4 linked regions of the Homo sapiens genome follow. The protein of the gene in region 1 interacts with the protein of each later gene in a pairwise test. Each region holds a gene or a part of one and is shown in the gene's direction. Other genes may lie near its edges.

Evidence for each region.
Region 2: the proteins of JPH3 (region 1) and DCAF8 interact in binary tests that used the Homo sapiens proteins (3 or more experiments, as listed by UniProt).
Region 3: the proteins of JPH3 (region 1) and IQUB interact in binary tests that used the Homo sapiens proteins (3 or more experiments, as listed by UniProt).
Region 4: the proteins of JPH3 (region 1) and C20orf141 interact in binary tests that used the Homo sapiens proteins (3 or more experiments, as listed by UniProt).

Annotation. Positions count from the first base shown.
Region 1 is NC_000016.10:87,598,106-87,605,512, forward strand, and holds the start of JPH3 (junctophilin-3), read left to right. Parts: upstream 1-4,402; 5' UTR 4,403-5,041; coding exon 5,042-5,423; intron 5,424-5,983; coding exon of another isoform or gene 5,984-6,054; exon of another isoform or gene 6,055-6,134; coding exon of another isoform or gene 6,135-6,313; exon of another isoform or gene 6,314-6,523; intron 6,524-7,407. UniProt on the Homo sapiens protein: Junctophilins contribute to the formation of junctional membrane complexes (JMCs) which link the plasma membrane with the endoplasmic or sarcoplasmic reticulum in excitable cells.
Region 2 is NC_000001.11:160,224,535-160,231,559, reverse strand, and holds part of DCAF8 (DDB1- and CUL4-associated factor 8), read left to right. Parts: intron 1-152; coding exon 153-263; intron 264-5,896; coding exon 5,897-5,969; intron 5,970-6,440; coding exon 6,441-6,498; intron 6,499-7,010; coding exon 7,011-7,025. UniProt on the Homo sapiens protein: May function as a substrate receptor for CUL4-DDB1 E3 ubiquitin-protein ligase complex.
Region 3 is NC_000007.14:123,531,573-123,539,197, reverse strand, and holds the start of IQUB (IQ motif and ubiquitin-like domain-containing protein), read left to right. Parts: upstream 1-4,602; 5' UTR 4,603-4,706; intron 4,707-6,004; exon of another isoform or gene 6,005-6,834; intron 6,835-7,625. UniProt on the Homo sapiens protein: Adapter protein that anchors the radial spoke 1 (RS1) complex to the A microtubule of outer doublet microtubules in axonemes. The triple radial spokes (RS1, RS2 and RS3) are required to modulate beating of the sperm flagellum.
Region 4 is NC_000020.11:2,810,245-2,816,350, forward strand, and holds C20orf141 (uncharacterized protein C20orf141), read left to right. Parts: upstream 1-4,742; 5' UTR 4,743-4,773; exon of another isoform or gene 4,774-4,907; 5' UTR 4,908-4,940; coding exon 4,941-5,200; intron 5,201-5,293; coding exon 5,294-5,531; 3' UTR 5,532-5,586; downstream 5,587-6,106. Other genes in the region: TMEM239 (transmembrane protein 239), read left to right, coding at 6,091-6,106.

The DNA of each region.
Region 1 (7,407 bases):
AAGTAAGGAAGTAAAATCATGCTCAACATTTTTTCAAAGCTCTTCCATTCTCAATGTTAAATCATGTCTTATCGACAGACCCCATATCCCAATTTTTGGCTCAGTTTGCTTCCTCTACTTGTACTAGAAATGCTGATCATATCTTTCTGCCATCACAAGGGAGGACCCTGGACCCCACTACTTGACCACAGCTAATCGAGTCAGAAAGAGACACCTGACCCAGGCTGAATGTCTCTCCTAAGACTCAGGAATCAGGATCTCCAGAGTCCAGGTTAGTGACTGTTAGGATGGGAAGAGCAGATTGCAGCAGAGAAAGCTGGTCTATGGAGGGCAGAAACATAAGGCAGGCTGGCTGAGAGCAGAGATGTAGGGCCCAGTAAAAGAGAGAGGCTTGGGTCGTGGCACAGTGGGAAGGTGGCCATCTGCAAGCTGGGCAGAGAACTCTCACCAGGGACTGAATCAGCCAGAAACTTGATCTTGGACTTTTAGCCTCAAAAACAATAAGACATTTCTGTTGTTGAAGTCACCCAGTCTGCGGTATTTTGTTATGACGGCCCTTGAAGACTAATACACAGGCAGACAGTGCTAGAAAGCTCACTGCATCACTGTAACTGCAGAAAACAAAACAAAGCCAACCGCCCTAAATGTCCCTCATTGACAGTGGGTGTATGAGGAGGTGACTGTCCTCCTGGCTGCTGGTACTCTGGGGAGGCGGCTTTGGTGCTCAAGCCAAGAGATTGAGGTTGAACTCTGGGACTCCCAGGAGGGGCTGATTTTCCTGAGAGCCCCGTGAGCAAAAAGTGGTAAACGTTTTCTGTAAAGAACAAGATGGTAAATATTTTAGGCTTTGTAGGCTATATGGTGTCTGTCACAACGACTCCACTCTTATGTTGCAGTGTAAAAGCCACTCTAGACACACAAATGAATGGCCATGGTTGTGCTTCAGTGAAATTCTGTTTATGAAAATAGGCAGTGGACTAGATTTGGCCTCTGGGTTATGGTTTGTGTGATGCCTGGCTTAAAACAACAATCTTCTTTTTTTTTTTTTTTTTTTTCAGAAAATTGAAATTCTGACAAGATGTGATGGGGAACGCTTGTCTCAGCTGCATGTGGCTTTAGCTGGGGTGACCTGCCTGGGGTCTGGAGGGTCTACTTTCAAGATGGTACACTTTTATGGCTGTCAAATGCTGCTGGCTGCTGGCTGGGAGTCTGGCTGGAGCTGTGGGTTGGAGGACCCTGTATCTCTCCTTGTTGGCACGTCCAGGGGCTGCTTGAGCTTCCTTACATCATGGCAACTTGGTTCCAAGCTTGAGCACCCCAAGAGCATGAGGCAGAAGCTGTGTTGCTGTTTATGAACTGACCTTTGAAGTCACATCCTGTCACTTCTGTGATAATCACACACTGGCCCAGATTCAGGGGAAGGGAATGCAGAGCCCACCTCTCAACAGAGACCTAGAAACGCCCAAATGGCAGTCCCACTTTGCTCCCCCAAAGCACTCCCTCAACAGGAGGGGTGTCAACACCACACTGGAAGAAGATCACGTGGAATGGGGGATCTTGTGGACATTTCACAGTGTTATGGTAAACACAGGCAAAGACAAGAAGGCAAGCACAGATAAGTTGATCGTGGCTCAGTTCTTTGAAGGAGATTAATAGGCTTTTGTGGGGATGCAGGGGGAGCTTTCTTTCTGCACTAGTCAGGAAGCCTCTCTGGAGCTGAGACCAGAAAGCTCTACTGTCATGGGAAGAGGCACCAGGCAAAAGAGACAGCAAGGACCCATGCCTGGAGGCCAGAAAGGGTGCAGGCTGGAAGGCCAGGCAGACTTGGGCTCGAATCCTGCCCAGTCATTATTTTCCCTCTGGCAAGGCACTTTACGTTGGTGGGGAAAAGTGATTCTTTTAAAAAGGAGAGTGTAATTCCAAATCACCTGAGTCCATGAGATGACTAATGTGCTGTCTTCATCCTAGTGCCTGGCTCACATGTGGGTTACAGCTTTTTTACCCTTCTCCCTGGTTTTTGTTTTTAAACGGCTGGGTGGTACTACGTTTATAGGCTTGGAGAGTTTCCTCCAAAGTGAAATCAATACTGCCAGCCCTACTTTATCGGGAGGGCGGTGATTTCCAAATTGCACAGAACAAATGCCTGTAATATCTGCATTTCAGAGACTAGAGCCTGTCACCGCTGGAGTAACTGACTGCAGGAGATGAGAGAGGGTCAGTTGGAGGTGGGGGTCTTGGAACTGCAAGGGAGCGGAGTGTACACTGGCCAAAGGTGGAAGGTGCTGACCAGTAACTGCTTGGAAGCAACCACCGTGTTTCAATAGGATCTCAGTTGCAATCCACTGCTTGTGTGAAGGAGGGCTGCTGATTCAGCAGCAAAATGGTTGGAAATAAAATGGAAGAAATGAAAAGTAGAACATACGAGTGGTGGCAATGTTTATTTCAACAGGCAGAGGGCTGGGTGTCTCCATGCAGGAATCCATGACCCTCCCTGGGGGGCTGGCTTCCAATAACATTACTTCCCACTTCCCGAGCGCTTACTGAGTGCTGGGCGCCTAGCTTTTGAATTCCCACGGTAACCCTATGGGAACTCTGCCATCTCCATTTTACAGATGAGAAAACTGAGCTCAGGGACATTAGGTGACTGCCCAAAGCCATACTGCTGGTGGGCCCCGGAGCCAAGGTTTCGACCCGAATCTCTTGAGGACAAGGTGCAGTTCCTTTGGCCCACACATTTACAACAGAGAAATTTCCATGGACATGAAACAGCCCAGAGATATTATTTCATACCCATTTAGATGAACAAAGTAAAATAAATGGAAAGAAAATCAGAAGTTTGAGGACACCAGTGCTGGCCAGGAAATAGAGAACCACAAACCCAGGCACACTGAAGGGTGAGAGGTCAGTTGCTCCAGGTGTTTGGAAAGCAATTTGGCAGCTTCCAATAAAGTCCAAGACGTAGCTGGTCCAATGATGCCACCGCAGACATTTAGAGAACTTCTGTAGAGGGGCACAGGGAGACAGCGCTAGAAAGCTCAATGAATCACTGTAACTGCACAAAACAAAACAAAGCCGACCGCCCTAAATGTTCCTCATTGACAGTGGGTGTATGAGGAGGTGACTGTCCTCCTGGCTGCTGGTACTCTGGGGAGGGAGCTTTGGTGCCCAAGGCAAGAGACTGAGGTTGAACTCTGGGACTCCCAGGAGGGGCTGATTTTTCTGAGAGCCCCGTGAGCCAAGAGTGGGGACCATCCTGATTCTCTCGGACAGGGGAAGATCTGAGCAGGGCTCCTGGCTGATTGGAGGCTCCGAATCGCACCTCTTCTCCTGTCCTAATCTCAGGCTCCAGGCCTGGCTTGCAGTTTCTGGCTCACCGCGCTGCGGTCACCGGCCCACACTCCCAGGAGCGAGGACCCTGGGCAGCCTCCACACCCCCATCAGCCCACTGCACCGGTCTGCTGCCATTTCCCGCACGCATTTCAGGAGGGCTGGGGACGCCGGCTTCTGCCTGAGGATTTATGGTCCAGGAAATGCATTTTAAATGGATCCCAGGATGCTCGGATCCAAGAATCAGACTCTCTCTTGTGCGTGGGAAGAGGGGCGGAGGGTGAGAGTATGTCTGGAGAGAGACCTAGAAACGCCCGAATGGCGGTCCCACTTTGCTCCCCAAAAGCGCGACCGTTCCCCGAGTGGGGGGGCGCTACCTGTTGGCCAGGGCGCAGGGCGCACGGAATTCGGGTGACTTTGCTCCAAGATACACGCGTGTGTCCCGACTCTCACTCAATTTATAGGGGAGAGGGACTCGCCAAATCCCTGTTTTCTGGGGTAAGCCCCCCTCCCCCCACTCTTGGACCCAAGCTGCCCGGAAGGAAGAAGGAAGCATTGTTTGTCACCGGAGAAAACCACCTGTGGTTTGCAAAGGGCCTCAGTCGAGTCAGGGGCAGGCGGGGCAGATCCGAGCCCGGCGGGAGGGGCGAGGCGCGGGGGCGGGCAGGGGCGAGGGTAGGGGCGCTCAGCTGGCAGGTCCTGCTCTGCAGGCCTCACCGCCCAGCTCCCGGGAGGGGGCCGAGGGCGCCCTGAGTGCTGCGCGCCTTCCCATGACGCAGTTCCTGTGCCTTTAAATCCCACTCCCGGAGGGGGCGGGGGCGCCCCGGCTGGACCCCGGTTTCCAGTCCGGCGGGGGCCCCGGGGAAGCCCAGGGCGGGGAGCGCGGGGCTGGGGGCGCGGAGGGCGGGGCGCCCGGGGTCCCCGCCCGCGCGCCGCGCCCTAGCCTGCTGGGCCGCGCCCCTCTTGGGACCGCCGCGCTCCGGGGGCGGGGGCGGGGGCGGGGGCGGGGGGCGGGGGGCGGGGGGCGGGCGGGGGCGCGCGGGCGGGCGGGGTGCGGGCGCGCGCCGCGCGGCCCGAGCGCGCGAGCCGGGCCCGGAGCGCACGCCGCCGCCGCCACCGCCGCCGCCGCCGCCCGAGCCGCCGCATTGCTGCTGCTGCTGCCGCCGCCGCCCCGCGCCCGGCCCGCGGCCCCCAATATGGTGCAGCCGCCAGCGCCGCCGCCCGTGCCGCCGCCGCCGCCCGCGGGCCCCGCCGCCGCCCTCGGGCGCCCGCAGCGCGGCAGCCGCAGGTGGGGGGCCGCGGCCCGGGCCTGAGCTGCCCCCCGCCCGGCCTCGGCGCGGCGCCCTCCCCGCGGGGCTGCCGGCGAGGGGCCCTCTCGCCGCTGAGGTGGAGCCGCGGGCCCCGCCGCCGCCGCTCCTGCCCCCTCCCTCCCTCCTCCCCTCCCCCTCCCCTCCGGTCCTGTCTCCAGCGGGAGCGCGAGACGCTGGTCAGGCTCCGCGGCGCAGCTCGAAAAGGAATAATCGCCCCCGATTGACTGAAATTCCTCCGGAGCCGGCGCCGCGGCCGCCCGCGCCCGAGACCGCGCTCCGGGGCCGCGTCCTCCTCTCCTCCGGAAAACGCTCGCGACCCAGGGCCGCCGGCGGCCGCGACTCTGCTGTGTCGATCGCCTGAGTCCGTTTTCACCGTTTGCGGGATCTGGAACCGAGTTACATGCATGTCCAGTGGGGGCAGGTTTAATTTTGACGACGGAGGGTCCTACTGTGGAGGCTGGGAGGACGGCAAGGCGCACGGCCATGGCGTCTGCACCGGCCCCAAGGGCCAAGGCGAATACACCGGCTCGTGGAGCCACGGCTTCGAGGTGCTGGGCGTCTACACCTGGCCCAGCGGCAACACGTACCAGGGCACCTGGGCGCAGGGCAAGCGCCACGGCATCGGCCTGGAGAGCAAGGGGAAGTGGGTGTACAAGGGCGAGTGGACGCACGGATTCAAGGGGCGCTACGGGGTGCGGGAGTGCGCGGGCAACGGGGCCAAATACGAAGGGACCTGGAGCAACGGGCTGCAGGACGGCTACGGGACCGAGACCTACTCGGACGGAGGTAGGTGCCGCGGGCCGGGCCGGGCCGGGGCGGGAGGGACGTGCTTCCGATCGCGCCCCTTCTGTGGATCTCTGGGGAAGTTGAGCTGCGTCCTCCGGTTGGGCCGTGGGCACCAGGGGCCTTTCCCGGGCTTCCCTGGAAGCCACGGCGGCTCCTGGCTACAGGTTGCCCCGCTGCCTGGTGGGGACAGTGCCCCTGTGCCAGCTGAAGGGTGTTGGGGGCTTTCCAGGGGCAGAGCCAGGCGGGGCCCAGCAGAGCCTCCGTGCGTCGGACACAGCAGGCCGGAGACCTGCGGGAAGGGCCAGGCTGGGCCCGCGGCCCTGGGGAACCCAGCAAGGGCAGAGGGGGCTGGGAGAAGGGCCCCTCCCCTTGTTGGCTTTGCCCCCCACCCTGGAGGCCGCCCTTCGATCAGGCCCCAGCTTCGCTTCTGGTGTTCCTGCGGCGCCCGAGGGCCTTCCTCAGCCCCGAATCTGCCCAAGCCGAGAGAAAGGGAGTGATGGGGAGCGCTAGGGGCGGGGGATGCCAACCCGAACCAAAACAGCCAGGCAGTACACTTCTAGGTGGTTGGACGCGGACTAGCGCTGTCGAAGCAGGCTGCTGGAGGGAGGAGGGAGGCCCATCTGCTCAGTGAGAGCCCAGGAATCTCGTCTTTCAGTGGCTGCATCGTTTTCACCATTAGTTGAGGGAATCGATCTGTGCCTTCATTCTAAGATGCCACCGCATTCGGGGCAGAGCCGGGGCCGGAAGCCAGGGAGCTGCCTGCTGCTGCTGCTGCTGCTGCTGCTGCTGCTGCTGCTGCTGTAAGATGGTTTCTGTGCAGGGAACCTTGGCCGGCTCTGCAGCTGCCCGCCTGCCTGGACTCTCCGATATCCACTCCTCAGTGCACCTGACACGCATGGAGCCGGTCCTTTCCTGGAAGCCAGACCCCAAACAAACTGGCTTCCCCGACCAGTCCACTCCCATGTGGGAGCTTATCCTCAGAGGCACTGGGTCCTCTGCCTCCCTCGGGCGGCTCGCCTGTTTCAGGCATGGATGCCTGGGAAGGGAGTGAGACGCAGCAATGACTTGTGCTTCTGCCGAGAATAAAAATCCTGAGCGTACGTGTGCTCTAGTCCTCCCCGCCCGCTCGCTGCCTCCGAGTCTCATGAAGAAAGCTCGGAACACCTGCTCCACGGCCACATCCAGGAGTGGCAGGGGGCTGGAGAGTAATTATTATTTTGGCTTATGCAACTGAAAAGCAGGGTTCGTTATTACCCGAAGAGGAGGAGGAGTCTGGGGCAGTTAATTATATAATGCTCCTGCCTGTCAAAGCCGTGCCCAGCCCCGGTCTCAGGCGGCCTTTTCTGTGCCGTTGTTGTTTTCATGGAGCAGGTTGGAGAGCTTCCCTGACCCTGGGGCGCTGAGGGCCGGGCGGGAGCAGACGGTGCTCCCTTGGTTCCAGGCTGTGGGCCTGTGTGTGTGTGTGCGCGCGCGTGCAGGCACAGGGAGGCCCGGGCAGCAGATGTGGGTGGCTGAGACAGGCAGGCAGCCTGGCGCTTCCAGCTGGGCTGTTTGGAGCCCAGGGGCTGCTATCACCCCCAGGCTCTGGCCAGGAGGCTCTGCAGACCTGTCCTCCAGAGGTGCTCCTGGCTGAGCCTGCTCCAGGAGGACTGTGCAGGCCGGGCTCACGCAGGGCATGGGGACGAGAGGAGCCAGGGCTTTCGTTGTCTCTGAAACTCCTCAGAATATCTGGGGGTGAGGCTGAGCACCCCACTCTGCCCACGCTCCTCAGACATCTCCAGAGTCCTGAGGAATCATTTCTTTCATTCAACAAATACTGATGGAATGTTTGCTATGAGCCAGGTGTGCCAGGCTCTGGGAAAACCACACTGAGCAAAGCAGACAGCCAGGTGTCCTAGGCTTTGGAAAAACCACACTGAGCAAAGCAGACACAGATCTTTGCCCTCACGGAGCTTACATTTGAGGGAGAAGGAGCGGCGATTAT
Region 2 (7,025 bases), on another chromosome or scaffold:
CAAAACAAACAGAGAAAACACAACAATTCTTTCTTTCCAAATGAGAATCTCTTTGGTTTCTTATTAGCCATGTGACTCTCTTGGCTCTCCTTTGCCATGACCATTTGGATCTTTTGGAGTATATAACTTTCTGTGCTTTTCTACTCTTAAAGGAAACTGGTGGTGACAAAAGAGAAAGAGAAGAAAGTGGGGCTGTATACGATCTATGTGAATCCTGCCAATACCCACCAGTTTGCAGTGGGTGGACGAGATCAGTTTGTAAGGTGAGTTTGTGGCTCTTTTGTGTCTTTGACAGTTTGTAAGACTGATGCATTGTATACTACCAGGTGCTCCTTTATGGAGAGTTACGAATTTTATAGGAATCCATTAACTATTATCTTGAATTTTTTACCGTTTTCCAAAAATCTTACACGCCTTTGGAGATGTTCTGTTCTCTAATGTAACAGTCTCTGAGGGGTGACTTTACATATTTTAGAGATTATCAAGTTTTAAAGAAGTTAGATGATGGTCAGGTGTAGTGGCTCACACCTGTAATCTCGACACTTTGGGAGGTGAGGCGGGTGGATCACCTAAGGACAGGAGTTTGGGACCAGCCTGGCCAACATGGCAAAACTCTGTCTCTAAAAAAAAAAATACAAAAATTAGCCAGGCATGGTGGTACATGCGTGTAGTCCCAGCTGCTCAAGAGGCTGAGGCAGGAGGATCACTTGAGCTCAGGAGTCAGAGGTTGCAATGAGCCAAGATTGTGCCACTGCACTCCAGCCTGAATGACAGAGCGAGACTCTGTCTCAAAAAAGAAAAGAAAAGAAGTTAGATGAATTGACCAAGGTCCTCACGTGGCAGCTAAGCCATAAATTTAGGTTTACCAGCAAGTACTATATTAGTAAATAATCTACCTTTTTCGTATGTAAATAAACGTGCACTAGAAATTTTAAATACTGGTTTTCAATTCAGAAATAGTTTGACTTGGGAGCACTTAGTGTGAACTGAGGGTTTTTTGGCTCTCACTGTCCTGAGCTACCACTTTTTTTTATCCATAGTGATATCTTTGTTACCGTGAACACCTTTTGTTAACACTGGCTCTTGAGACATGACCTAAGGAAAACAGACACTGTGGATTCAGTCTCCATATGTATTAGTTAATTTCCTCTGACCCTTAGTAATAAGCTGTATCCATCCCTATCCAGTTGGCCTATTTTAACTATGTTTCTTTGGGCTCATCAGTTTGAAAGGAGAGAGAGGGGCAAGATCACTAGAAAAATGAGTGACTTTTTGCTTTCCTAATGGTAAGTGAAAAGCATCATCTTCCTTTTGAAATGAGAGCACATTTTATAGCTATATTTCCAGATTCATTTTATTAATAAGAATCATGGGGAATAGGGTAAATTTTTAGAAAATACATGAGATGACTTTGCCTTGTTCAAGAATCCTGGACAAAACCTTGTTTCTCTCTTCTTCCCCTATTCCCATGCCTTCAAAATTCGTTTCCTCTAGTCACCAACAGTCCTTAAATGTGTAGCCATAGATTTTTTTTTTTAGACAGAGTTTTACTCTTATTACCCATGCTGGAGTGCAGTGACACAATCTTGGCTCACTGCAACCTCCGCTTCCCGGGTTCAAGCGATTCTCCTGCCTCAGCCTCCCGAGTAGCTGGGATTACAGGTGCACGCCACCACGCCTGGCTAATTTTTTGTATTTTCAGTAGAACCGAGGTCTCACCGTGTTAGCCAGGCTAGTCTCGAACTCCTGACCTCAGGTGATCTGCCCGCCTTGGCCTCCCAAAGTGCTGGGATTGCAGGCATGAGCCACTGTGCCTGGCCAATTTTTTTTATTTTTAAATAAGAAGCTGTTGATCAAAAAGGGTTGTAGTTTGTATAGATTTTCAGTTGCTACCTCCTCCAAGTTGAGCATTCACTGAAATTTTGAGTTGAGAGTTCCTACTTAGAGCTCCAGATTACTTGAAAAGTCTGTGTCTCTAACAAATTCCACCACTAGGACCAAGATGTTTGGAGGGGAATGTAGTAGTTTGCTGTATTGAGAACTGTATTCATATGTATGTATGTATTCATATGTATTCATATGATATGTATATCATATTGCCTTAACCCAAAGCTGATACTTTCCCAGGGTTAGAGTAAGGCTTAGAGTTTTAGCATTTCAACACAAGGAGAAATACTCAAATCTTCTGTGTCTTATCAGCCTCAATATTCCTCTATTGGCTATTTACTGGGCAGAAGTTATGTGAAGATTTTTGTTTTTTTTTTGAGACAGAGTCTCACTTTGTTGCCCAGGCTGGAGTGTAGTGGCTCGATCTCGGCTCACTGCAACCTCTGCCTCCTGGGTTCAAGTGATTCTCATGCCTCAGCCTCCCAAGTAGCTGGGATTACAGGCATGTGCCACTTTGCCTGGCTATTTTTGTATTTTTAGTAGAGATACGGTTTTGCCATGTTGGCCAGGCTGGTCTCGAACTGTCTTCAAGTGATCCACCCACCTCGGCCTCTCAAAGTGCTGGGATTACAGTCGTGAGCCACCGCGCCTGGCTATGTGAAGATTTTGAGGCACGCTGATCCTACACAAGCAGGTAGCCCTTTCAGCACTCCAGCTCTTCTCTGACATTAGGTTACACTCAACTTCTCTGGCACCTCTCCTGTGCAGCCAACTGAATGTTTTGAGGTTTCTCCTTTCTTATTCTTCCTTTGAAAGAACCCAAACAGCTCATCTTCTGGTATAAATTTGAAAACATTTTTGCTGAATATTATATATCATAACATCATTAACTTTCACTCCTAGCCTAAAGGAATTACTTCAAGGGAATATAGAGAAATAGCTTACTGATCCTCAAGGCTTTTGCATCATTAATACTGAATTTTAGTTTAGGGTTATTAAAAAGTATTTAAGGGAAGCTCTGGGGAGACATGCTTTTTGGCCTGTGGCCAAAAAAAAAAAAAAGGTAAGTAGAGGAGGTATAGGTGTGAGTCCCTACTACACCTGCTAAGCTAAGCTAATTCCTGCTTAGCTTAGTTTTAAGAATTTATAGGGGTAAAGAAAAAGAGAATATATCAGGTGAATCCTTTAGTGGTAAATTTGGCTGACATGAAAATTTATTGCTAAAGGATTAAGTATAGGCCCTGATTGATGAAGCACAGTCAGTAAATCATCTCTTCATTCCCCAGTTCTTAAGCCAACATCAGCAACACTGAGAGAACATTAGATTAAAGGCAGGTATAGAAGAGAGACTTAGGGTAACAAGTTAGTGGGTGCCTGAAGGCATGTGGGAAGAGATGTGGTAAAGGTGTGCACACTATTCCTTACGTGACTTAAAATGTCAAGGGGCTTGGTGTGGTGGCTCATGACTATAAAACTAGAGCACTTTGGAAGGCCAAAGCTGGAGGATAGCTTGAGGTCAGAAGTTCAAGGCCAACTTGGGCAATATAGCAAGACTGTGTCTCTACCAAAAAAAAAAAAAATTAAGAAAAAATTTTAATTTTTTAATTAATTAAATATCTCCAGGTGTGGTGGTATGCTCCTGTAGTCCCAACTACTTGGGAGGCAGAGGAGGATCTCTTGAGCCCAGGAGTTTGAGGCTACAGTGAGCTGTGATTACACCACTGCACTCCATCCTGGATGACAGAGTGAGACCCTGTCTCAAAAAAAATAACTAAAAGTAAAATATAAACTATCAAGGGCCTATCATATGTTCAGAAAGTGGTAGGAAAGTTTGTATTAATCTTTCTATGCTTACTGTCTATCACAGGGCTTGACAAACTGTAGTGCTTGTTTTTATAAATAAAGTTTTATTGGAACACAGCCATGGCCTTACTTTACATGTTGTTTATGACCACTTTCATGCTACAATGGCAGAATTCAATAGTTTTAATAGAGATTAGATGGTTTGCCAGTTTACCAGCTTAAAACATTTACTGTCTTGTCCTTTAAGAAAAAGTTTGCCAAACTCCGTTCTAGCATCATATGTAGAATATAGTAAGCTATTAATAAACACTTAGTTGGGGTGTAGTGGCTTATACCTGTAATCCCAGCACTTTGGGAGGCTGAGGCAGGAGAATCTTTTGAGGCCAGGAGTTTGAGACCAAGCTGGGCAGATGCTGTCTCCACCAAAAAATAAAAATATTAGCTCAGCATGGTGGTGTGTGCCTGTAGTCCCAGCTACGCGGCAGGTTGAGGCGGGAGGATCGTGTGAGCTGGGGATGTCAAGGCTTAAGTCATCAGTAACCTAACTGCCAAAGCAAACAAAGTACTTTTCAAGTCTTTTTCTCTACTCTTGACATTATTACTCCTTCCCTGAAGCACCTTCTCTCCTTGATGTCCAACCACTCCTCAGTGTTGTTCATGGGTGTGTCTTCCTTTCTCCACCCATTAAATGCTGATGTTCTCCAGTAGCTCAGTCTTCAGCTCTCATCTTACTCTATACCAGGGAATTTTAACTTGAAGTACAAATATTATGTGAACCTCCAGAAAGTATGCTTATGTGCATTTTTCTGGGGAGAAGGGACTAGAGTTTTCATTATATTCTGAAACAGGCCAGAGATTCTAAAGGGCGAAGGGAAAATCTTCTCTGTATTTTCCCTTGGAGATCTAATTCCATTACCAATGCTTTAACTACCACCTTTCACACGGATATATGACTTACATCTGTGTCTGCAGACCACACTTATTCTGAACTCTAGACTTACACCTACTTAACAAATGGATATAATTAACTGATGACTTCAGCCAGAGAAGTCTCAGTGGTGAGTTGAGAACCAAAACCAGATTAGGATGGACTGAGAAGTGAATAGGAAGTAAGAAAGTGGAAATATTGAATGTTGATTGTTCTTTTCAGTAGTGTAACTGTAAGGGGAAGGAGAAAAAAAGCAATAGTAGGAAAGGACAGTCAGCAGAAGGATTTTTAGAAAGTGGCCAGCTGGTGATGAGGAAGAGGTTGAGAAATTAGATAATCATCAAACAAGGTCCCTGGAAGGATGAAATGAAAAGCATTTTTCAAGAGATTGGCTCTGAGATTGGAGGAGACTGGGTGAGAACAGATACTGGATCTGTCTTGTTCCTCACTGTATTTCTAGCACCTAGCATAATATTTGACACATAATATGTGTGTCCTCATGAGTTTAAAGCTTGGATTAGAGAGAGGAAGGAAGGTGAAGGTGTAGTGTGCTTGATAAGAATGAGGAAAGGAGAGGGAGTCTTGAGGATATGGGTGGTAGTTTTTAATAATTATTGTGGGGTATGAGAGGGAGAACAGGCCAAATACAGTTTTAAGGAGGGATTACAGACCCATTGACTTACATTAAGCATGGTTTCTGCCCGTGAGTAACCTTTTTCGGTAGGTAATGTACATGTAAAAAGCTCCATACTAATGTTAGTTGTTTCAGTGAAAAGTAGCAGTATGTGATATAAAACTTGAGGAGAGAGATAAACCACTTCAAACTGACAGAATTGAGGATTGCCACTTAAAATGGGAAGTATGTGGATAAAGGATTTAAGGGTTTGCCTGGCCAACAGATGAAACTCTGTCTCTACTAAAAATACAAAAATTGGCCGGGCGTGGTGGTGTGTGCCCATAGTCCCAGCTATTTAGGAGGCTGAGGCAAGAGAATTGCTTGAACCCATGAGGCGGAGGTTGCAGTGAGCCGGGGTCATGCCACTGCACTACAGCCTGGGTGACAGAGCAGGACCCCATCTCAAACAAACAAAAGATTTAGGGTTTGGAAATGGATTGGAAAAGGGATGCCCTTTAAGGAAGAGCACAAACCAAAAGCTTGGTTTGGAAAATGTTGTTTATCTGCATCCAGCTGGCAGTTTCCTGCCACTACATCAAATTGCAGCTCTTCAAGGGTTTCGTTTGTACATTTTTACATTTTCATTGCTTTTCCAACTGTAGGATTTATGACCAGAGGAAAATTGATGAGAATGAGAACAATGGAGTACTCAAGAAGTTCTGTCCTCATCACCTGGTAAGATTCATGAAGGGCCAGTTGCTGCAGGCTTCCCTGACTCAACCCCAAGGCTGCACCTGAACTTGTTGGTATGGTGGGAAGAGCTTGGACTTTCAAGTCAGTCATCTGGATTTGAATCCTGGCTTTACCACTTACCAGCTTTGTGATCTTGGCAGTCACTTCACTTCTGATAGCCTCAGTTTTTTAATCGACAAAATAGAAATAAAAATAACTGCCTTGCACCTTGATGGTGAGGCCTAATGAGACAGTGTACATAAAATGGCTAGCACATGGATGACAACCAAAAGAAAGCCCCAAGATGCTACCCCCTGAGGTGGTCATGTTTCATCAGTTGTACTCTTGTCTCTGTCTGTCTTTCTCAAATCTCTGGGAGAAGATATAGGGGAGTTTGAAGGAAAAGCTGTTTCCTGAAGATGGTATAACAAATGGGGGGGTGGGGCATCAGTCAGTATCTGCTCCTTATTGCAGGTGAACAGTGAGTCCAAAGCAAACATCACCTGTCTTGTGTACAGCCACGACGGCACAGGTACGTGAGCAGGGCCCAGCTCCTAGGCTGGCATGCCCCCTCTGTCTAGGGAGCTGCTGAGCCAGTGAGGCATGTGCCCTCCAGTGCTCACCACTGTGCTATAGCTCCAAGTAGAGCAGCTGGGGAGTAACTGCTGATGGTGAGCACATAGCGGGAGGATACAGTAGATGACCCTTGGAGATGCCAGGTACCATTTGCAGAATGCTGCAGATGATATTTGGCAGGGCCTGTCCTGAAGCCCAGGTTGCTTGCCTGAGCAGGTTCTTATGCCTTTGACTCATTCCTGAGTTAATGGGTATGACCTTTTTGAGCATTCTGCTGCCCCTGGGTTGGCAGTGTGTTCTTAGTCTACCCTGTACAGTCGGACTTGCCTGGTGTTCCAAATAAGATGGGTGCTACACCTGGGTATTTGGAGGGGGCACTACTGGCAAGAAGCCCCACCCCAACCCCCACCTCCTGGTCCCTGCTTTTTTCAGCCTTTGCCTTCACTGCTATGTTCTTGTTCTTGGCAGAGCTCCTGGCCAGTT
Region 3 (7,625 bases), on another chromosome or scaffold:
GAGTAAGGCTCAGGTCTCAAGGTTGCCATCTTTCCCACACCAGTAGGATCAACTAGTCTGTCATTGGAATAGAATGAATTGATGCCAGCAGTAGTAGTCATCATGTGCAATCAGGCCTCAAGTTTTATTGTATCCTTTCACTCTCCCTCATTCTCCCCTCCCCCTCCTTTTCCCTCAGAATTGGGGGATGGAAGAAAAGAGAGCTTATATTTTATTGTCAATTTTCTAATCACATTCAGAGGAGCGAAGCTAATTAAGCCAATAACAATGTTTATGAATGTATCTTTTTTAAAAGGGAGATGACAATATATAGGAAAATTCCCACATGTAGGCTAATAGCAGCTTTTTCTTTTTCCTCCCATCCTCTATGATTATGTAAACATACAGAAGTCTAACACCCTACACAAGTGTATTGTGGGGTATGGGATTAAGTACCAAATTGCTGAACATATCACTAGTATTTTGGATTTGCTGAGTGCAGTCTTCCCATTAAAACTAAGTGTTCAGTAGGGAGGCGTGGTGGCTCACACCTATAATCCCACTACTTTGGGAGGCCGAGGTGGGTGGATCACTTGAGGTCAAAAGTTCGAGGCCAGCCTGGCCAATATGGTGAAACCCCGTCTCTACTAAAAACAAAAACAAAAACTAAGTGTTCAGTGAGATTGTAGCCTATGCTACAACAATAGTAATGCCAATTGTTTTAGAGAAAAGTAAATGAGAGGCTACCAGTTGTGTTTAGAGGAGGTCGACGTTTTATTTTAGACAAAATTCACAGGAAATCACAGTGGGAATGTGATAAGGGGTTTGAATGATTGATGGGGACAGGAAGAATTCATTTGAGAGACTAGAGATGAGTCAGTATTCTAGATCGTGAAGTAAAATAGTGAGTCATGTAGTGACTTAGCATGGGTTATCCTTAAATCCCAGTGTCTTAAGTGTATTTTTTATTCATACTGCATGTCTAAGGAGGGTTGGCAAGGAGTGCTCATAGACCCACAAGGAATCCAGGCTGAGTGTGGCACCATCAACATATATTTCCATGACCATAGTGGTGGTGGGGAATTGGAACATGGTAAATTACACATAGGAATAAAAAAAAAGAAACAACCAAGGTTAAATTTTTTTTTGACTGTGCCACAAAATTTATGAATTGAACTTGCCATGCATCACTAATAATTTTCAAATTGGTCTTTAGGTTTACATTAGCAGCTAATTTTTTGTGGTACACTTAAATGTAATTTATGATTGGCATCTGTATATAATTAAATGAAAAGCATTGCAAAGATTTCTATTTTGGTATTTCTCATGATCTTCAATTTTTTTTTAGGTGAATCTATTAGGTTTTCTAAAGATAACTATTTTTTTTTTTTTACAAAATATTGGCATTTTAATCTCTCTATAACTGGAGGGTGAATTATTTTTCACCAGAGTAAAACAGGTCCAAAGTCCCTTATCTAAATTCCTAATTTCAAAAATCTCTGAAAACAAAGTTTTTTCATAACTCATTTGGCAACAAACCCCACCTGAATTACATGAGGCTATTTGTGGTATTTATCGCACTTCAATGTGAATATGAATATATTTTGCCACAGATGTATCAATATATTTGATTCTAAACTGCTTCCTCAGACCCTCTTAATGTGTTACATAATGTAAAGTATATGCCCATATTTCCTTTCAAAAATCTGAAAAATTGTGAATATCAAACACATCTGTCTTAAAAGGTTTCAGAAAAGGGACAATAGACCTATATTTCCATTCTCTTAACAAGTTCACAAAGTGGTATTATGATCCAAATTTAATCTAAATAATTTCCAAAACAAAAATTTTCAGGTCCTTAGTTTTCTAAATTATTTTAATATTAAAAATATTCATTATTCATTTTAACCTGTAGTAACAACAGGAGATACTTTGAAATGCTTGATTTTATCAAGCCACTAGGTGGCATCTTTGTAAAAATAAAAGCACATCAAAAGAAATGTTTATTACATAAATAAATGCTGAGATGAATAAAGGTAGATGTTTCATGAGAAATACGAAGTCGTTTGGTGGAATAAATCCTGAGAAAATGCATAGATTTATCATGAAAAGGAAAATGGAAAATGGTATTGTAAAATTACTCTTTCACTTTTGGAATTGAGAAGCTTTTTCCTATTGGTTGTTTTCATTAAGTTTGAATATAAATTTATTATGTAACCAAACTACATTTGTGTGTATGTGCGTGTATGTGTGCGTGGACAGGATTTTGACATGCTAATAACTTTTCCATGCTCCACAGACTACCCAAGGAAGCCTAACTAAGTTAGGTTCCTATTTAAGATTAAATTGTATAAAGTCATCCTCACAGCAAACTACAAAAAAAAATGAATAGTGGCTATCAAGTCACATTTAACACTGTGAGACACTTAAGTTCTCTCCTACCAGTTTTTCTTCCCCCATCTCCTGACTCTATTCCTAAACCTACTGTTTGCATACCGTCTCTAACATTGAGAACAGTGAATGACAAATTTTAAAGAGGAGACCCAGCAAAGTGAATGTTTAAAACCAGTGGAATGTTTATTAGTAGCAGAATGTAAGATAAATTATGATTTTGGAGATGGGAGTGTATGAGTGTTTGTAAAATCTTATCTGCACACCTCCACACCTGGTCTACCCATCCAAGAAAGCCTAATTCTAGTGGTTACCTCTATGCCCATTTTTCCCCTTTACTTTTCATGAATGTGTGGAAATGATTAAAATGAATTTACTTTTACTGATCATTATTAAAACAAAGCCAATTTTATCTGAATATATATTTCACTATTCTAGTAAAAATATATTTTAAAATGGGATGACTGAAAAAAATGGCATTGGATATTACAAAGTTATTGGGGAGATGAGAGTGCAATTTCAGCAGAACAGTATAAAGAAATAAATGAAGACAATGAACATTTATGAATAAGGGAATGGACCTGTATTAATTTTATTAATCCTTTTAACATATCAAATCAAATTAAACAGTACTGTAATGGTTAAAAAATCTGGGACCTGGAGTTAGATTGCTTAGGTTTAATCCTGGTTCCCTCATTAAACTTTGTGTGCCTTAGTTTTCTCATTTACAAAATGGGTCTAATAGCAGTTTCTCCCTAATAAAATCGTTGTAAGGATTAAATTAGAAATCTATGTACGGTGCCTCATGACAATGAATACTTCATAAATGTTAGCTGCTATTATGAGATAGCAACATGTAGTTTGTTACTAAATTTCCAAGAGGAACATACTTGACTTGACCTCCAATACTATCCTGTGGTTCTTTAAAAGTTTTCTTATTCATTGATAGGCCGGGCGCGGTGGCTCACTCCTGTAATCCCCAACACTTTTGAAGGCGGATTGCTTGAGGCTAGGAGTTCCAGATCAGCCTGGCCAACATGGTGAAACCCCATCTCTACTAAAAATACCAAAATTAGCCGGGGGTGGTGGCGGGCGCCTGTAATCTCAGCTACTCAGGAGGCTGAGGCAGGAGAATCGCGGGAGCCAGGGAGGTAGAGGTTGCATTGAGCCGAGATCGAACCACTGCACTTCAACCTGGGCGACAGAGCAAGACTCTGTATACACTAGAAAAAAAAAAAAAAAAAAGAATTTGTTGTTAGACAAAATTTAGTTTATTAACTAATTTAGTGATTAACAAAAGTTCTTCTAAGCAGAATTATTTGATAGCTACTATCTCCCTTTTCTCTTTGGCTGCCAGGAAGCTGAGAGCCAAGTTGTTAGTTTAACAAAAGCAAGTAGGCACCTGACAGTTTCTCGCCTCTGACTTCATCGTGATGATTTCTCTGACTCGGATTTTTTTTATATCTGTAAAATTAAACTGCTGTCAGTGTTTGGTTTAGAGAGCTGTGCCGTTTCACAAGTGTAAAAGATCTTGGAGAGAAGTTAGTGTCCTGATTCACTTGGATCTAGGTAGCCAGTTGGTAACAGCCTCCGCCTCTGGCTCCTCCCCTTCTCCCTGCCGCGTCCCTCCTCCCCGCCCCTTCGCCTCTGGCCCCGCCCCTTCTCCCTGCCGCTTCCCTCCTCCACGCCCGCTCGCCTCTGACTCCTCCCCTTCTCCCTGACGCGTCCCTCTTCCTGTCTCTTCGCCTCTGGCTCCTCCCCTTTCTCCTGCCATGTTTCTTCTCCCCGCCCCCTCGCCTCTGGCTCCTCCCCCTTTTCCCTATCGCGTTCCTCCTTTGCAGCCCCCATCCCCCTCCTCTGGCTCCTCTTCTTCCCTACCGCGATCCTCCTTCCAGACCCCGGCCCCCAGCCCGCCTCTAGCTCCTTCCCTTATTTCCTGCCGCGCTCCTCCTTCCCGACACCGCCCCTCCGCCTCTGGCTACTCCTCTTCTCTCCTGCCGCACTCCTCCTTCCCGGCCCCACCTCCCCGCCTCTGGCTCATCCCCTTCTCTTCTGCCGCCCTCCTCCTTCCCGGCCCCGCCCCCAGTCTTTGGCTCCTCCCCCTACCCTGCCGCGCTCCTCCTTCCCGGCCCCTCCCCGCTGCCCTCTTCTGGCTCCTCCCCCCCACCCGCCTCTGGCTCCTCTCCTTCCCACCCCTGCCGTGCTCCGGCAGGAAGAGGTGGTGCCAGGGCCGTTGCTAGGATACGACCAACAGCTGAGAACGCGGCGAGTATGGAAGCTGCGTCTTAGGAGCCTGGGAAAGCACTTCGACGAGAATAGTTTGGTTTCGTACACAGGTAGGAGAACAGATTTTGACTGCGGCCTCCTGGTCCGACGCTTAGATCCAGCCTAGAGCCGGTGACAGCCGCGCTGGACTCTGGGTTCTGTGTGCTGGGCAGTGATTCCCACCTGAGCGCCTGGGGCTGCCTAGTCGGTCAGGAATGTTCCGACTTTACTTTAAAAACCGTGCGAAGCATCTCATCTTTCTCGGCTCCTTTTTTGGCTTCCCCTCTCTGATTTGGGACTTGAACCAGCAGCATCAAGCTAGGAGGTACACCTCACCTCACACCCTGGGTGCTTGTCACGGTAATTGCATAGAAGATGTGTGTATAACCCACACCTGGCACTAGAGACTCTTAGCCTTCCGTGGCCACCATTCTCATATTAAGTCGAGAGATTTTAGACTTTCCTCACCTGGCACTCTCACTCCTTCCTCTCCACCCTTGGTCTTTGCCTCTTAACAAACCTAAAAATTCAACAGATCTATTTGGTAGAAGGCAATACTGGATCCCTGCCTCACTAATTATACTACATTCTAAATGTGTTAAGCTTTAAATGGTAGGGAATGAAATGTAGGTGAAAAGGGAGACTTTTTTGTATGCAAACATGATAGAGGTTGCTTTTTAAACAATAAGATTTAAACATTTTCATTTGAATAGATAATACATAAAAAAATAGTTCGAATAGTAAAAAGAATGAAGAGTGAAAATCCTCCATCTACCCATTTCTCCCCATCTCCAGGCCACCTTCCACAGGTGTTTTAGACATACGCAAATATGTAGTTACACCTGTAACATTGTGCATACTCTTCTGTGATTGGCTTTTACACTTAAGACTGTGTGTCCAGTTGTTTTCTATCAATATTTACAGATCTGTCTCATTTATGCATTTATGGATGAATTTATGTATTTATGTTTCATTGTGAGAAGGTGTTTCGAAGCATGTCAGGAAATTTGGAAACTCTCATAAGCAAAAAGATTGATAAATGTCACTACCTAACAATCTAAAACTTTTATATAGTAAGAGAAAAACAACATCAAACATACAATGGGAAATATAAGGGCAACACACAACAAAGGGATATTTAATTATTAGGACTCATAAAACAATATGAGGATGTAAGGAAACAGTCAAGGGGAACTTCTTGGGGCTATAATAGAAAACAGTTTGATGGAATTTAACAAAATTAAGATCTGTATGCCCTTTGACTTGTCCATTCTAATTCTGGGAACTCATTTTCAGTATACTTACACATATATACAGAGATAGATGTATAAAATGTTTGTTGCAGCACTATTTTTAATAGTAAAAAACTAGAGGGGTCTGCATGGCGGGGCCTCGGAGCCAAGACGAGGTTGAGTAGACTCGTTTTGAATTTTCTCCCCTCTGCTCCGGCGGACTTCCCATGTCGCCTTGTGGGGCTATCGGCGGCGGCAGGACTGGGGGAGTCAGAGGTCTGGCAGCGCTGTCTGCGCAGACCTACCGGACGCTACCTCCCAACCCCCCTTTCTTCCTCCTGCCTCCTCCTCCTCCCGTCACCTCCTGACCCGCCGGAGCTCCGAGCAACTGCCGGCCTCCGCCCCCAGCCGCAGCCGGTCACTGGCGGCGCCTTCCGCGCCAAGCTTGGGGGCCTTTTCGGGGTCCTACATGGCACGGCTTCCGACCCCCGGCCCGGGACGGGGCTCGCAGGCCCCAGAGGGGCAGGCTGGAGAAGGAGGAGGTTAGGTGTCTTCAGGAGGGTTGCTGAGCCCAAGGACGCGCCATCGCCGCGGAGAAGGAGCCGGACCCCTTGGGCGGAGCGCCCAATGTGTGGTCCCTCACGCCGTCCCGCACCTTGCTTTTTAGGGTTCTTTTTCCGCTTTCTGAGCCCTTTTATACCTTACGTTTAGAAGGGGAAAATCATCCTCCCACACCTTCTCCCCGACTTTTTGCCTTTTTTGTCTTGAAGTTACCCAAAGGTCTGTGTATTGTTCTCAGTGGTCCCAAGAATTACTCGAATATAGTTGTTTTTCTGAGGGAGGATGGATGGAGATAACTATCCTGATCCCAGTGTCACTTTTTAAGGCATTCGCTTCAAGAGACAAGCAGTTTAGAATCAGGCAGAACTGGATTGCAAAATTTATGGGCAGACCGGTATGTGTGAAGGTGAAGACAAAGCTTTCCTTTTTTACGTTGTTTAAAGATGTCCTACTGTAAGGTAGACGCCTAATATTTAAATGAACGCCTAATATTTAAATAGAGAATGAGAAGAGATTTAAACAATTGGAAGAAAAAAATAATTTTTATTAGAAAGCAATGACAATAAAAGTAGGACTCTTTTCAGTTTACTCACCTTTGTAACTCCGAATCCGGGCCCTGGAACCAGAATTCCTGGGTTCAAATCCTGCCTCTGCTACTTGATTAACCTTTTTGTGCCACACTTTTATCAACTGTAAGAATTAACTGCGCCATCGGAAGCACTCAGTATATGTTAATTATTATCATCAAATAGTTACTAATTCCAGTTTAACTAGAAGCTTTGCCAGCGTGAATAGATAAGGGAGAATAGCCACATTGAGTGGAGGAATAAAATTAGAAAACCTCTGTGCTGAAGTCCCAGGAGATCACTTATTAGGCTTGAGCTTGCTAATGGAAGTGGTGATCGTTTAACCATGTGGTTATTGTAGTGGTGAAGATTTACACATTAAATAAGTCTTGGGCATCTGAAGCTTGAAACACTTTCTTAATGAAATCTTGCCGTTGAATCTGTACTTACTGATAATATGTCATTGGTTAAAATATATTTATAAAATGTATAATTGACCAGCAGGTTAATACATTTTTATCATTAATTTGAAATTTATCAAAATGAGAATATACAGTACCTGACGGTCAGTGGAGTTTGATCTTAATTTGATTTGAAAATTATGATCAGGAAAATAAATAACCTGAATATA
Region 4 (6,106 bases), on another chromosome or scaffold:
CACCCGGCTAATTTTTTGTATTTTTAGTAGAGATGGAGTTTCACCTTGTTAGCCAGGACGGTCTCAATCTCCTGACCTTGTGATCTGCCCGCCTTGGGCCTCCCAAAGTGCTGGGATTACAGGTGTGAGCCACTGCACCCGGCCACATTTTTTTTTTTTTAAGAGACAAGTTTTCGCTATGTCATCCAGGCTACAACATAGTTTCTATTTTTATTTCAATTGCTTTAGGGGTACCAGCGGTTTTTGGTTACAGGGGAGAACTGTATAGTGGTGAAGTTTGAAATCTTAGAGCGCCCATCACCCGAGTAGTGTACATTGTATGCAACATGCAGTTTTTTTTATCTGTCACCCCCCGCTTACCCTCCTCCTTCTGAGTCTCCAATGTCCATTATACCATTCTGTATGCCTTTGCATACCCACAGCTTAGTTTCCATTTATTTATTTTTATTTAATTTATTTTTTTTGAGACAGAGTCTCGCTCTGTTGCCCAGGCTGGAATGCAGTGGCGTGAACTCGGCTCACTGCAAGCTCCGACTCCTGGGTTCATGCCATTCTCCTGCCTCAGCCTCCCGAGTAGCTGGGACTACAGGTGCCGCCACCACGCCCAGCTAATTTTTTGTGTTTTTAGTAGAGACGGGTTTCACCGTGTTAGTCAGGATGGTCTCGATCTCCTGACCTCGTGATCCACCCGCCTCAGCCTCCCAAAGTGTTGGGATTACAGGAGTGAGCCACCGTGTCCCGCCAGCTTCCATTTATAAGTGAGAACATATGGTATTTGGCTTTCCATTCCTTAGTTACTTCACTTAGAATAATGACCTCCAGTTCCATCCAAAAGACATTATTTCACTCTTTTTTATGGCTGAGTAGTATTCCATGGTGTGTGTGTGTGTGTGTGTGTGTGTGTGTGTGTGTGTGTGCATGCACACACATAGCACATTCCCTCTATTCACTCATCAGTTGATGGGCACTTAGATTGGTTCCATATCTTTGCAATTGTGAACTGTGCTGCAATAAACTATGTATGCAGGTGTCTTTTTGATATAATAACTTATTTTCCTTTGGGTAGATATCCAGTAGTGAGGTTGCTGAATTGAATGTAGATCTCTGTTTAGTTATCTGATAAATCTTCATACAGTTTTCCATAGAGGTCCAGTCTACAATATAGTTTTAAAGGTAAATCACATTTAGGCTTGTAATGGAAGAGTCGGCTCTATGCCTTTCCCAAGCCAAGCACTTTTAGTTCTTTTTGTTATTTCTCCTGTCTTTATCTCTATGCTTAGATTTCTTGCTATTTCCTTTTTTTTCTTTTTTCTTTTCTTTTCTCCTTCTTCTTCTTTTTTTTAAAAGACAATTTCTTGCTCTGCTGTCCAGGCTGGAGTGCAGTGAGCTGAGGCTCACTGCAACCTCTGCCTCCCAGGCTCAAGTGATCCTCGTGCCTCAGCCACTCAAGTAGCTGGGATTACAGGTGCCTGCCACCATGCTCAGTTAATTTTTGTATTTTTAGTAGAGATGGGGTTTTACCATGTTGGCCAGGCTGGTCTTGAACTCCTGGCCTCAAGTGATCTGCCCACCTCAGCCTCCCAAAGTTCTGGGATTACAGGTGTGAGTCACTGTGCATTTCTTGATTTTTCTTTATGTAGTTGTTATCTGTGGATTTCTGCTATGAAATTAAGGCGTTAGTTTTTCTACCACCCTCCCCTCAATACACACATCCAGATACACAAACATACACTCCCTCCTTCCATTTTCAGTAAAGCTCAATTGCTATTTGGAATCAATATTCAGTGCTTTTGTTATGACTATGTAAATATTATGTTTAAATTTGTGCTACCTGGAGTTAGTAATTACTTTGTTTTTATCATTTGCTTAGTTTTCTAGGCATCACTCATTAATTCAATCGCAAAGCTTCCAGTGTAACTGAACATTTACTCAATATAGCCAAACATAGCTAATAATCAGTTGATTTCATTTTCCTCTGGAGACATCGCTCCTAGAGCACATCTTCTGATTTCAGGCTGGGTTGGTTACTTTCTTTACCCGGGGGTATAGTTGACATCCCAGGCCTTTCTCATCGTCCCTTTTCTGTGCTTAATCTCATTTATTGAATGCCATATTGCTCTCTTTCTTAGTTTAATTCTTTGTTTTGCTGAAGCACATCCTCCAGTAGCTTTCTAAGAAAGGGTATATGCAAGGTCAAATTTCTGAGACCTTGTATGATTGAAATGTCATTATTCTACCCTCCCAATTAATAATCATTCAGACCTATACATTTCTATATTAGACATCATTTTGAGGGCATTTATTGTCTTCTAGCTACCAGTATTGGTGTTTAGAAGTGTGATACCATTCTTGCTTCAGATCCGATGTATGTGATGTTTTTATTTGGTGGAAGCTCTTAGGATTGTCTTTTTATCCCTGCTAATGTGAATTTCATTATATGCCTTGATGTTAGCTGCCCTGTTTCATGTATTGGGCTGTGAATTGGTGGAAAGTTATGGTCTAGAGAATCATGTCCTTCAATTCTGAAGAGTCTCTTGATTTTTAAAAATCTTTCCCTTCTGGTCGGGCAGGGTGGCTCACACCTGTAATCCCAGCACTTTGGGAGGCTGAGGCGGTCACATCACCTGAGGTCAGGAGTTTGAGACCAGCCTGGCCGACATGGTGAAACCCTGTCTCTACTAAAAATACAAAAATTAGCTGGGTGTGGTGGTGGGTGCCTGTAATCTCAGTTACTTGGGAGGCTGAAGCAGGAGAATCACTTAAACCCGGGAGGCGGAGGTTGCAGTGAGCCAAGATGGCGCCATTGCACTCCAGCCTGGGCAACAAGAGCGAAACTCTGTCTCAAAAAAAAAAAAAAAAAAAAATAGAAAGAAAGGTTTTCCTCCTCAGAGCACTCCCTCAATAAACCATGTGTACAAGTATCCCCATCTCAGGCTCTACTTTTAGAAATTATGACCCATTGATATAGTCTGAATATTTGTCCAAATCTCAAGTTGAAATCTCAAATCCCAATGTTGGAGGTAGGGCCTGATGGGAGGTGTTTGGGTCATGGGGGTGGATATTTCATGGCTTGGTGCTGTCCTTGAAATAGTGAGTGAGTTCTCTCAAGATCTGGTTGTTTAAGTGTGTGGCAACTCCCCTAACCACCACTCTCTCCCTTGCTCTTCACCCTTTGCCTTCTGCCATGATTGGAAGTTTCCTGAGGTCTCCCCAAAAGCAGATGCTGGTACCCTACTTCCTGTACAGCCTGCAAAACTGCAAGCCAATTAAGCCTCTTTTCTTATAAATTACCCAGTCTCAGGTATTTCTTCATAGCAACGCAAGAATGGCCTAATACACCCACCATCTGGTGCAGTGCCTGGCACATAGGAAGCACTTAAATAAATGATTGTTGAATACAAAATAAACTCTGAGAAAATCACAGACAGAACTCTCCTATACATGCATACAGAGCACCTGGTGCATAGTAAATCTTTAAGGAGCTTTAGACTCTCCGATCCCCCCATGCCCTGCAATATGGAGTAGCCTCATCTTGGTGGACTCATCAGGACATGCTCCCCAGGTCTGTATGTCCAGGAATGCAATTGTGTGGATGCATCCAGGATTGATCAGGCTCAGGGAATTGCCAATCTTAAACCTTAATGTTCCTTTACAAGCACAATTGGAACTTAATGCCAAAAAAAAAAAAATTCTGGGATCTTCTGTTATACCCTATCCCATTACGGACAAATCTACTCGTAAAACCCAGCTGCTGGATAAGCAAGAACAGCCAGACCAAGGGCGATCAGTGCATGGTCATTAGGGCTGGTGACCCTCGTCTCTGGGCAAGGCCTGCTGGAGGTGGATATGCAGCCTGATTCTTGTTCTGTCTCCTCCTCTCCTAGGGGCTGTATGGCCACTGTCTCCCATTTTGCCACCCCTACCAGTTTTCCTTCAAAGTATGATATGTGGGCAAAGATTAAGTTCTCTTAATTATGACACATTTCCGCTCTTGCCTCTCAAGTCACTAAACTGAGATGTGCTGGACCCCTATGGCCACCACCCATTTACAGATGATCAGTGTAATCTGATATACTGATAATCCAAGTGACTAAGCCCTTCATTATATGTTCATTTTCCTTAACTCCATTCTCAGACTGTAACCTTAACCTCTAATAAGGGGGTTACTAGGTCATAGTCCTCTTAAGTTCATGTCCTCTACCTCATTACTGGAACCCCAGTATGCATAACACCCCCTATAAACTGTAGTGCTTAGAATACCTGAACAGCCCCCTCCTCTCTCACCCCCATTTAGCAGGTTATGCGGAAGCCCAGCCCCAGAAGCCTCAGGCAGTCCCCTGGCAGAGCCCATCTCTGCAATCTGGAACTTCAGGCCTGAAAAATCCCCTAGAAGGACCCACAGGGAAGACAGCTGGGGACAGAGATATTGAATGACTTCGCCCTGGACCTGCAGCTCTGCAAACTCACAGGAAGAAGAAAGCAGACCTCGCTCCCTTGGACAGATGCCCAAGTAGTAATGGGGTTAGAATGCCTTCCTGACAACTCAGATCCCCAAGGGAGGGCCCTAGGGCAGAGAATCAGCAAAGGCAAGAGGATGAGTCTTAGTTCTCAGAAATCCCTGACTTCCCAGCTAAGCCCCACCTAGGCCACCAGCTGCTTATGAGGTCAGAGCAGCAGCAGCAGCAGCCCCCTCCCTACCCCACGGCCCCACGTGGTAACAGGTCACAATGCCCCGGGTGCCCACTCCCAGAATGCTGACCAAAGTGGGAGGAGGTGAGGAGGGTTTGCTGGGTGGGTATGGGGGAGGGGGAGACTCTGCAGGAGCCTAATTCCCCACTCTGAGCTCACCCTTCTGTCTGCCCGGGCCCTACCCCTTCCCCTACTCTCACCCTTATAATCCTTTTCAGCACTAGGTCTTCCCGTCACCTCCACCTCTCTCCATGACCCGGCTCTGCTTACCCAGACCCGAAGCACGTGAGGATCCGATCCCAGTTCCTCCAAGGGGCCTGGGTGCTGGGGAGGGGTCAGGTAGTCCAGTGCGTCCACCTGTATCCACCTGGGGCCCTAGCTGGGCCCAGCTCCTGGACAGTGTCCTATGGCTGGGGGCACTAGGACTGACAATCCAGGCAGTCTTTTCCACCACTGGCCCAGCCCTGCTGCTGCTTCTGGTCAGCTTCCTCACCTTTGACCTGCTCCATAGGTAAGTGGGCAGCAGCCTGGCAGGTGGGCATTGTAGGCGGGCGGGCCAGTGGACAACTTCCCTAAGCCCAGTCACCACCCTCTCTCTCCACAGGCCCGCAGGTCACACTCTGCCACAGCGCAAACTTCTCACCAGGGGCCAGAGTCAGGGGGCCGGTGAAGGTCCTGGACAGCAGGAGGCTCTACTCCTGCAAATGGGTACAGTCTCAGGACAACTTAGCCTCCAGGACGCACTGCTGCTGCTGCTCATGGGGCTGGGCCCGCTCCTGAGAGCCTGTGGCATGCCCTTGACCCTGCTTGGCCTGGCTTTCTGCCTCCATCCTTGGGCCTGAGAGCCCCTCCCCACAACTCAGTGTCCTTCAAATATACAATGACCACCCTTCTTCATCAGGCCCCCTTTTCTCCTTCCTGGCTGGGCAGGTGGGATGATACCCCTTTCTTCCCAGCCTGAACCTCACAGTCCTATAATATAGGTATCAGATACCTGGATCTGAGTCTTTGGGCAGCAAGAGAAGGTAGGATACTAGCCAGGGAGCCCAAGGAAGAATGTGGCAGCCACCTCAGAGCCTGTGGATTGGGGGCAGCCACTCTGGCCTCCTCTGTGGCTCTAGAGAATGAAGGTCCAGACAGAAAGACTTGCGAGAGAGCAGTTTGGAAAGGGGTGGATATCAGCCAGCAGGGAAAGCAGGAAAGGGACAGGGATCCAGGGAGGGCTTCCCATGAGAAAGCATGAGAAACTACATCTGCGGGGCTCCGAGGCTCCCCTGCCAGCCTGGAGGGTCCGTGCAGAGGGACTTGGGTGGGCCTCACACCCTACAGTGACTCCTCTCTTGGCTGGACCCCACCCCAGCCCGGGTCACAAAGGGGCTCCTCTGGGGAGGGTGGGGGTAGATGAGAGTGGGGACTT